Linked DNA regions of Homo sapiens: region 2 is linked to region 1. Evidence: fine-mapped expression QTL. A gene starts in region 1. The other region holds a variant in brackets. All regions are shown on one strand. Distances are between the middles of the regions.

Region 1 (5,000 bases):
TGCTAAGATTGAACTCATTTTTAAAAACCTCTTAAACCTTTTTCTGCCTCACTCTTACTAACTTGGTTCATGCTCTCATCATCTGATTTACTGCATACTTCTTTAAAGTTCTGTTCTTGATGCATACTTCTCTAAAGTATGAGTGACTGAATTTTCTTTTTTTTAATTTTTTTTTTTTTTTGAGACCAAGTTTTGCTCTTGTCACCCAGGCTGGAGTGCAATTACACGATCTTGGCTCACTGCAACCTCCACCTCCCAGGTTCAACCGATTCTCCTGCCTCAGCCTCCCGAGTAGTTGGGACTACAGGCACCCACCATCATGCCCGGCTAATTTTTGTATTTTTAGTAGAGACAGGGTTTCACCATGTTGCCCAGGCTGGTTTGAACTCCTGACCTCAAGTGATCCACCCGCCTCAGCCTTCCAAAGTGCTGGGATTACAGGCATGAGCCACTGCGTTCGGCCTGAGTCACTGAATTTTCTATAAAGGTGATTGCATTATGCTATTCCCTGTTTAAAGATCTCTAAAAAGACTATTCCTTTTTTTTTTTGGACAGAGTCTCACTCTGTCCCCAGGCTGGAGTGCAGGGGCACAATCTCAGCTCACTGCAGCCCCCGCCTCCTGGGTTCAAGCGATTCTTCTGCCTCAGCCTCTCGAGTAGCTGCGAGTACGGGCACAAGCCACCACGCCCAGCTAATTTTTGTATTTTTAGTAAAGACAGGGTTTCACCATATTGGCCAGGCTGGTCTCGAACTCCTGACCTCGTGATCTGCCCGCCTCAGCCTCCCAAAGTGCTGGAATTACAGGCATAAGCCACCGCGCCCGGCCAAGTGTAAACTTTTAAGATGACATACAAAGCCCTGCATGACCTGGCCCTTCCTCTCTCTCTAGCCTTACTGTCAGATTTGACTGTACCACATTCTAGCATTGAAGTATTGGGCAAGTTTTTTTTAACTGTCAAGTGAGGATACTAATGCTAATCAGGGGGAGATAACAGCATATAAAGTGCCAAGCATACTGCCTGGCTTAGCGTTAACAATAAATATTGGCTATTGTGGAAGAAGCAAACATTATTGCATGTATTTTTTCAGTCTCTACTGCTGTCTCAAGAGGATGCTTTGAACTGTTGATTGGGTAATGTTTTAACATAAACGGAACTCTCCACTCCACCGAAAAAGAAAGAAGAGGAAGAAACAGATTTATCTGAACAGACTGAGAAGAAAATTGGAGGTGAAAAGTTGAGTGACTGGGGAGGATTAAGAGAGGCCCATCGAGTTGTTTGTTTGCGGAGATGAGTTAGCAGTAGTATAAACTTTAAGAAAGAAGAGATCTGGCCGGGCGCAGTGGCTCATGCCTGTAATCCCAGCACTTTGGGAGGCTGAGGCTGGCGGATCACTGAGGTCAGGGGTTCAAGACCAGCCTGGCCAACACGGTGAAACCCCGTCTCTACTAAAAATACAACAATTAGCTTGGTGTGGTGGCGCAGGCCTATAATCCCAGCTACTCTGGAGGCTGAGGCAGGAGAATCGCTTGGACCTGGGAGGTGGAGGTCGCAGTGAGCCGAGATTGCACCACTGCACTCTAGCCTGGACTACAGAGACTCTGTCAAAAAAACAAAAAAACAAAAAAAAGAGAGAGAGATCTGAAGTATTTGCTCTCAGAACATAGGGGGACTTTGGAGAGTTAAATGGGTGAAGATCTTTAGGATGTTTTGCTAAGCCCCCTCCTTACGTCCTCAGTGGCCAGCTTTAGTTACTTTGTTAAAGTTTTATGGTTGGCAGATTTACGTTTCTTCAGAGTTTGACACTAGGTTGAGGTTGGCCATGAACTAATACAATTATATTTCAGTTACACGATTCTTTGCCCTCCTTGAGTGTCCCCACCCTCATATATGTTAACTCTGACATCTGCCCGAAATTCATTCATCTAATAAATATTTGAGTGGCCTCCCCTCTTTCCGATTGCTGGACAGCCCATCATTTTCCAAAGTCAGCACCTAAACTCTTCTATGACTTTCCTGACAACTCAACACTAAAATTCGTCCCTCCCTTTTTTGTGTGCAACCCACCTCCCCGCCTCCGCTTTTAATTGTTTGGCCTTCATTCCTCTTCTACAGTGCTCCCTGCAATCAGTACTGGTGCTGTACATATTTGCTAGCTTCGTACATACGGCACGAAGTAGATGCTCAGTAAATGTTGGTTGACTGAGTATCCTCTGCATCTCGGTGACATCACATCCTGCGTGCCGTGGCGTCATTCTGCATTCCTCTGCGGGAGGCTCAGATCCGGAGGGTTTAAGTGGTTGTTTATAACATGCACCGAACATATCCAACGGAGGCTGTGGTTTCCGACCGCCCACAAAAAGCGCGGTTGGCGGGAGTGCGGGTTCGGGGTCGGCTGGCAGCTGGGAGACTCCAGCTCTGGGCGGAAACACACTGCCTCGGAGGCGCCGGCGCCTAGTGATTCTGGGAATAGAAGGTGCGAGGGAGGGAGCGGGTGGCTCACTTATCGCGGTGTTTTCTCTCTCTTCACTCCTGGGGGAGCTCTCGCGAGAGGAGCAAGAGGAAGATGGCCGTGCCCTGTTTTTCGGTGTAAGGCAGCGACGGCGGCTGCGACGGCGAGACTGAGATCCTGGTGTCGTGGGCACCTGAGTTCTAGCTTCCCCCAGCGAGCGCGCGTCCCTTCGTGCCTAGGCGAGAGCCGGCTCTTCCCCGGGAGATGCGTTTGTCCCAGGCTCGGGGGCTCAGTGGGAGTTCATGCTGCGCTGGAGGCTCTTGGCCACCGCTCTAATCGCCTTGTGCCGCCGCAGCGCCAGCTCCGTCGCCAGCGGTGAGCCTCCCGATTCCCCCCCTTGCCCCTGGCGGCGGCGATGACCGGGGAGAAGATCCGCTCACTGCGGAGGGACCACAAGCCCAGCAAAGAAGAAGGGGACCTGCTGGAGCCCGGGGATGAGGAAGCGGCGGCTGCCCTCGGCGGTACCTTTACCAGAAGCAGGATTGGCAAGGGCGGCAAAGCTTGTCATAAGATCTTCAGTAACCATCACCACCGGCTACAGCTGAAGGCAGCTCCGGCCTCCTCCAATCCCCCCGGCGCCCCGGCTCTGCCGCTGCACAATTCCTCCGTGACTGCCAACTCCCAGTCCCCGGCCCTTCTGGCCGGCACCAACCCCGTTGCTGTCGTCGCGGATGGAGGCAGTTGCCCCGCACACTACCCGGTGCACGAGTGCGTCTTCAAGGGGGATGTGAGGAGACTCTCCTCTCTCATCCGCACGCACAATATCGGGCAGAAAGATAATCACGGTGAGGAGTGCTAGCCCCTCTCCACCTCTCTCCTTCCCCGAGCCTAGGGTGTGCCTCCCCAGGCTTCTGGAATCCTAGGCCCCCTCCAGCAGACTCTTCTTTTTGCCCATCATCCGGGCCGTTCGGTAAATCATGATCGACTCAGTAATAGCGTGCCAGTGGTCAAGGGGTTGGTTCTTGTGGGTGCAAAGGAATGTATCCTCCTTGCCCACTTCAAAGTTTGTCGTGAGAAGCTGTTTTGTTTGAGACAGGCCTTCGATTTGCTGATTCTGGACTGTCAGAAATTTTAGGTTGCCTCCCACCCAACATGGTTTTCTCCCTTTGTTTATGGAGCTATATATCTTTATTTCTCTCTCTTCCCCCTACCTTGGCATTTTAAATTTTGAACGCATAAATTGCCCTCCTCCCTTCATTGCTCACATACAGATCCCATCTTGACTGCAACTGGTTGTGATTTTGCCTGCCACCAGGTTGTTTCTTTTTTGTCTGCTTTCAGTAAACTTAGAATGTTAGATTTCTGAAAGCCACACAGTAGAAATTTGTTGGTATTTGATACGTAGAACAGTTAAAGTGACTTCTCAACAGCCGATTTTTGTTTGAGTAGAGATTTGATTTTTTGCTTGTTTTAAGTAGATAATTGCTAATAGTAATGTCTCATCTTGATGACTGTGACTAAAAATAGTATTATGATTTTTATGGTAATTTTATCTTAGTCAATATTGACCATTTCTTTTTGCCTTGTCAGCTGAATTTTTTGTTTAATTCTAAAAAATAATGTGACTGAGTTGACTTTTAAGCAACAGTAAATTTATTATTGAAGACTAATGTGAACACTGACATTTTAACATTTAATAGCCGTTTTAAACTGGGTAGTTGGCAAATATTGTTGATCGCTCTGCTATTAATATGAAAATTGTATACATTCAGTTAGAACACACTGAACCAACTTTGTGCTCAAAATGATATACGTATCAATGAAATATTTGCCTGTGAAATAAGCTCACTTAATTCCATTGGATCGTAGGCTTTTTAGGACAAAAATTCAGATAAAAAAAACGAGTAAGATTTCTCTTGGCTGTATAATTATCTAACAACTGCATTTGTTTTCAGAATTTACAATGTTGTAATTGTAATAAAATCACCACCTATCATTTATCATAAATCCCCAAAAAAGTATGTTAAAGTTGCAGCCAGTTTTTCTTTCCTACATTTAAATTACTTAATCATTTTACTATTATAGTACAAGGATAATGTTGTTTGTTGATGATGGTAATTCTATGCTAGCCCTTTGGAAAACAGTTGTTAGTGGGAGATGGGTTGTAGCTTCAGTTTATTAGTCTATTATGAGGAAGTTTTTCAAATTTGGTTTACATAGTAGCCATAGTTACATTACCTTGAAATATCCCTGAAACAGATAAAAGGTTTGAGAGTTAACTCCCTTTGAAAGAAGAGATGGATGAATATCACTGAAGCTATTGAATTACAGGATTGTTGGGCTTCCATGTCTTCTTCAACCCAACATTTAGGAGTACATTTGTTTAAGTTCAAATTCTGTTCAAAGTAATTAGAATCCTGTATACTCTTAAACTCTTGTCCTTAGCCCACTGAAATTAACTTTTTTTTTTTTTTTTTTTTTTTTGAGACGGAGTCTTGCTCTGTCGCCCAGGCTGGAGTGCAGTGGTGCAATCTCCGCTCACTGCAAG
Region 2 (5,532 bases), 44 kb after region 1:
GGCTGGTCTAGAACACCTGGGCTCAAGCGATCCTCCTACCTCGGCCTCTCAAAGTGCTGGGATTACAGAAGTGAGCCACCACATCTGGCCAATAGTTTATATTTTTAAGGTTGAAAATGGCACTTTTAGTTTTAAAAATTTTGTTTTACAAACAGCATTTAAAATTTAATAATAGAATGCAAGGAGTTTTCAGAAAAGAAAATTAATTATGGGATTATGGGACTACTGAATTTAAGGACGTTTGAAATCTAGTACTTAGATCTCTGAATGTGGAGAATTTAGTTAACATTTTTTGTTTATGTATATTTTGTTGTCTTTCCGTTATTTTGCCTCTTGCATACTTTATAGCCACTTTCTTTACATACTGTTTGGTTGAACATTGATTCCAGTGACTTACGAAAGATCCTAATTTTGCCCTAGATTTTTTTGCAGTCATTTATTGACTTACCTTAACAAGGTTTTTCTCCTCATTTTAAACATGAGTCCACTAGAGAGAAAACTTTCATATCCAAATATGAAATTTGATTCTAGTGACCTTTATTTTACTAACTAAACAACTAAATTTTGTTGTTTTTAAAGATTTAAAAAAATGTAATCTCTAAAGGTTTAGACATAATGAGCTTATGTGAGTTTTTGTTGAAGCATCTAAATTAATTTTTTTTTTTTTTTGGAGACAGAGTCTCACTCACTCTGTCGCCCAGGCACGTATGCATATTATACCAAATGAGGAACTTTGGGCAAAGAATTCAAAGTCAGTAGAATAGGAATTTTGAACTAGCAAATCTGTTTCTTTTCAGTTCTACATTCTGTGGCTCTATAGTTTTCTCTATACATTTAAAAACAAATTCTAGACTGTGAAATGGAGATTACTTACAGTACTTAGCCCCATCCAGTGCTGCTACTGCTCTTCCCAGGCAATTTGTAGTGGGATTTCCAGAGCAAGGCTCTGTCTCAAAAAAAAAAAAAAACAGTAATAGAAATTTCACAGTTTTAGGCCTAGTCTATGGGAGGTCAATAAATGCAACTTAATTTAAAACATTACATTCTGATATTTGTTAACCTTGAGGAAGTTATGATATTCTCACAATACACTTGGGTTTGCAAATTCAGCTTCAACTCGTCAGTAAGAAAATAGATTATACAATATACCATATAGCAGTAAAATGCCTAGGAAGTTACCAGATTTAAACTTTAATTAACAATTATACTTGTTATTTCTTCTAATTCTCTTACATCTTCTGATTTCTTCTGAAAAAGTAAACGCAGCCATAAATCTGAAGTCCATTAGCACTTATTTCTCTCTACTGTATGAAAAAATAGTAGTTTTCTACTGTCTTGAGAAAGAATCTGGCCTCTTTTCAACAAGTAATAATTTTCTACAAATTATATTTTTGATAAACTGCCTTCTTTATTTGGAGCTTTTAGATACAAATCAGACTTCCTCTCCAGCTTATGTACATTACAGCTTGTGTAAATTTTAAACATTGATTTTATAACATCTGTATACATTTCTAAAAATTGTATTATGCTTTTTAGTTAGCTTTGACTAATACAAGTTATTTAATACTAAAATTATCCTCAGTTTACTAAGATTTTAATCTATTTTTAATAGAATATTCACTGTAAAAGTTTTGAACATTATAGAAAATTAATCAGGTATTTTTAAGTTTCCCTGTTACCACTTCCCAGAGGTGACTATTGTTAACATTTCGTATGACTACTTTCAAATGCTTTTCAGTGCTTACTAAAGTGTTTGTGTACATAGCTATGCACACACAACCCCTCAGAATTAGGTTTTTTTTCTCCCATGGAATCATACTGTTATATCATTATGCAAGTTGACATTTATTTATTTATTTATTGAGAGGGAGTCTCACTCTATCACCCAGGCTGGAATGCAGTCACGCGATCTCAGCTCACTGCAACCTCCACCTCCTGGGTTCAAGTGATCCTAACACCTCAGCCTCCCGAGTAGCTGGGACTACATGCATGTGCCTTATGTTTTTAGTAGAGACAAGTTTTCACTGTGTTGGCCAGGCTGGTCTCGAACTCCTGACCTCTGATGATCCACCCGCCTCGGCCTCCCAAAGTGTAGGGATTACAGGCGTGAGCTACTACACCCAGCCATCATTTTTATTCAACCCATAGTAGGCATCTTACCATATTTCAGGTGGAAATACTTCACTAATTTTAACAGCTACATAATACTTTATGGCATGGATGATTAAGGTTTTTCTAGTGTGTTTAATCCTTGTATAGAGAATTTTAAATTCTAAATTTAATCAGTTTTTTCTCACATTTTTATAACTCTAGCTCATCAGGCTAGTTTGTCTCTATTAATGATTATGCAGTCTTGTTACTCTAATAGTCCCATCTTGCTTTTATGCCTTATATATCATTCAGGAGTCCTGGTGTCCTAGAACACATAGAAAAACAGGTTTATAGTAGCCTTGTGTAGTAAAGGAGCTCCAAGTTAGATTGGCCTAAAACCTGAATACTGTCTTTTTTACCCCATTTTTTTCCCATGTGGGGAGACCCCAGTCCTGCTTTGTGATCCTAAACTGGGTTGTCCCTTGAGTATTTTGGCTTTTTAACTGATTCTCTTAGTAATCATTAGTGGTTTGAATTCTAAAATAATCAATGTATATTGCTGAACAAAATGTTATAAAATATTTTAAAAGTGATATTTTAATTATACTAAAATATAAATACATGCAATCACTTCTAAAATTGTGTATATATCTA[T/C]AGTTATAAACAATACATTATAAATGTTGCATAATTGAGTTCCTCAAGTAACCACTGAGACAGTTGTCCAAAGTATTTCTTCTTTGAGAATTTGACTTTGATGCAAAAAGTCAGCACATCTGTTTCATTGCTAATAAAGGATTATAGTGATTTAACATCACAACTATTAATACGTGATGATTAGATGTCATGTATAATTCTAAAACGAAACCCATTGGCTTATAGATAGCCTAGATCTTTTATTAGATTTTATGATCAAACTTTAATTAGAGTTTTGGCATATTTCTTTCCCTTGTCAAAACACATAATATTTTTTAAAAAGCAAGCGAAAAATAAGGGGAAGCCAAGAAATACTGAAATCAGGGTGAGTTTACTTTTGAGATAGTAGAGCACACTCTTTTTTATGCTCTTACTTATATTCAGACTTCGAAGAAAATAGCCACAGACTTAGTAACAAGTTTGAAGGTAACTGAAATATTCCAGCCTGGATTTTTAGGTATAGAAAAGCTTTGAATTGGAGTCAGAAATACCGACCCCTAAGTATTTGACATTGCAAATCACATATTTTATATGTTTTCTGAGCTTTATTCTTCATTTTTAAAATGAGGATAATACTAACTACCCCACCTGTTGCAAACTTTCTTTTGGTGTATATGAAATAAAATCATTTTTTTGAAGAAAGCCCTTTGTATACTATAAAGTATCAAATAATTTATAATATGATCACTACTTTAAATTTTGCATTATGCATATAGCACGTTTTAACTAAAAAACTAATTCTCTATTTTTATTTGTTGTCTACAGAATCAATCCATCCTGTATTTGAGACTGTTATTTGTATATTATTATTATTATTATTTTTTTTTTTTTTTTTTTGCGACGGAGTCTGGCTCTGTCGCCCAGGCTAGCGCGATCTCGGCTCACTGCAAGCTCCACCTCCTGGGTTCACGCCATTCTCCTGCCTCAGCCTTCCGAGTAGCTGGGACTACAGGCGCCCGCCACCACGCCCGGCTAATTTTTTGTATTTTCTTTTTTTTAGTACAGACGGGATTTCACCGTGTTAGCCAAGATGGTCTTGATCTTCTCACCTCGTGATCCACCCGCCTCGGCCTCCCAAAGTGCTGGGATTACAGGCTTGAGCCACCGCGCCCGGCCTATTATTTGTATATTATAGATAGAAAACATTAAGCTTAAAAACTCTTCTGAAAATTGGGGAGTAGGCTGGGTGCAGTGGCTCACGCCGTAATCCCAGCACTTTGGGAGGCCAAGGCGGGTGGATCACCTTAGGTCAGGAGTTTGAGACCAACCTGGCCAACATGGTGAAAACCCATCTCTGCTAAAAATACAAAAATTAGGTGGACATGGTAGGGGGGCGCCTGTAATCCCAGCTACTCAGGAGGCTGAGGCTGGAGAATCACTTGAACCTGGGAGGCGGAGAGGAGAATCACTTGAACCTGGGAGGCGGAGTTTGTAGTAAGCTGAGATTGCGGCACTGCATTCCAGCCTGGGTGACAGAGCGACACTCTGTCTAAAAAAAAAAAAAAGGAAAGAAAGAAAATTGGGGAGTAAGTGGTAGCCAAATGAAAATTTAAATTTAAAAACTCTCTTTTTATTTTCTGTTTAGTGAATTATGCTACTGTTGGAATACTGTGCTAAACTTATGCTGAGGTAACAGGAAATAGGTTGGTTGTTTAACTTACGTGGAGGAGAAAAAGAGTTATTTCAGACTTGGGAAAATGTAAATTGCTATGTTTTGGAATGCATTAAAATCTATCAGAAATGTTTTTTTATTTGTTTGGTTGTTTGTTTTGCTCAATAATTTAACTTCTTTAATTTTTTTTTTTTTTTTTTTTGAGACGGAGTCTCGCTCTGTCGCCCAGGCTGGAGCACAGTGGCGCAATCTCGGCTCACTGCAAGTTCCGCCTCCTGGGTTCACGCCATTCTCCTGCCTCAGCCTCCTGAGTAGCTGGGACTACAGGCGCCCGCCACCACACCTGGCTAATTTTTTCTATTTTTAGTAAAGACGGGGTTTCACCGTGTTAGCCAGGACCGTCTTCATCTCCTGACCTCGTGATCTGCCCGCCTCGGCCTCCCAAAGTGCTGGGATTACAGGCCTCTGAGCCACCGCGCCTTGCCCTTTTCTTTTTTTTTTCTTAGCTTTTGCTCTCAATCCTCAACTTGTTTTCTCTCTGCCTTACCATTTTCCTCCTTTCCTGATTTTTAATAAAAGTATTAGTGTATGATATTAAATTCTGTTTTTGTAGGGTGTTATAATTACTTCAAAAGATATAATGTTGGCTGGGTATGGTGGCTTGTGCCTGTAATTCTAGCACTTTGGGAGGCTGAGGTGGGAGGATCTCTTGAGGCTAGGAGTTCAAGACCAACCTGGCCAATATAGGGAGACCCCCGTCTTTAAAAAAATAAATAAGTAATGAGATATAATGAAGTTAAATTAACTTAAGTTGGAGTGCTATCTACTTTTAATCATCTTTGGTTCATGATACACCAAATACTTACTTCAGGATGGATCTCAATTAATGAGCATGAAAGAACTTTGATCATTTATAGAATTACACTATTATTGCTCTTCTCAATTTTTGTTTCAAAAAAGTTTTTTCTTTCTTTCTTTTTTTCTTTTTCAAAGAGATAGGGTTTTGCTGTGTCACCTGGGCTGGAGTGCAGTGGCATGATCATAGCCCACTTCAGCCTTCGACTCCTGGCCTCAGGTGATCCTCCTGCTTCAGTCTCCCAGGTAGCTAGGACTACAGGTACCTGCCACCACACCTG

Evidence for each region. PIP is the estimated chance that this variant, and not a neighbour inherited with it, causes the effect.
Region 2: its variant is the best candidate, but not a certain one, in a credible set for the expression of ANKRD13C in whole blood (INTERVAL, PIP 0.59).

What each region holds. Positions count from the first base shown.
Region 1 is chr1:70,352,276-70,357,275 of GRCh38, reverse strand. ANKRD13C (ankyrin repeat domain 13C) reads left to right here and starts at 2,554. Exons shown (of 13, transcript NM_030816.5): 1 at 2,554-3,297. The coding sequence starts at 2,868. ANKRD13C-DT (ANKRD13C divergent transcript) reads right to left here and starts at 2,465. Exons shown (of 4, transcript NR_168352.1): 1 at 2,068-2,465. RefSeq lists enhancers at 2,175-2,234, 2,335-2,394, 2,445-2,634, 2,665-2,724, 1,852-2,769 and 3 more.
Region 2 is chr1:70,307,805-70,313,336 of GRCh38, reverse strand. All of the region lies in intron 5 of ANKRD13C (ankyrin repeat domain 13C), which reads left to right. Among named protein-coding and RNA genes, the nearest start is that of ANKRD13C, 44 kb to the left of the region's middle. The variant T/C (reference allele first, on the strand shown) is at 2,746.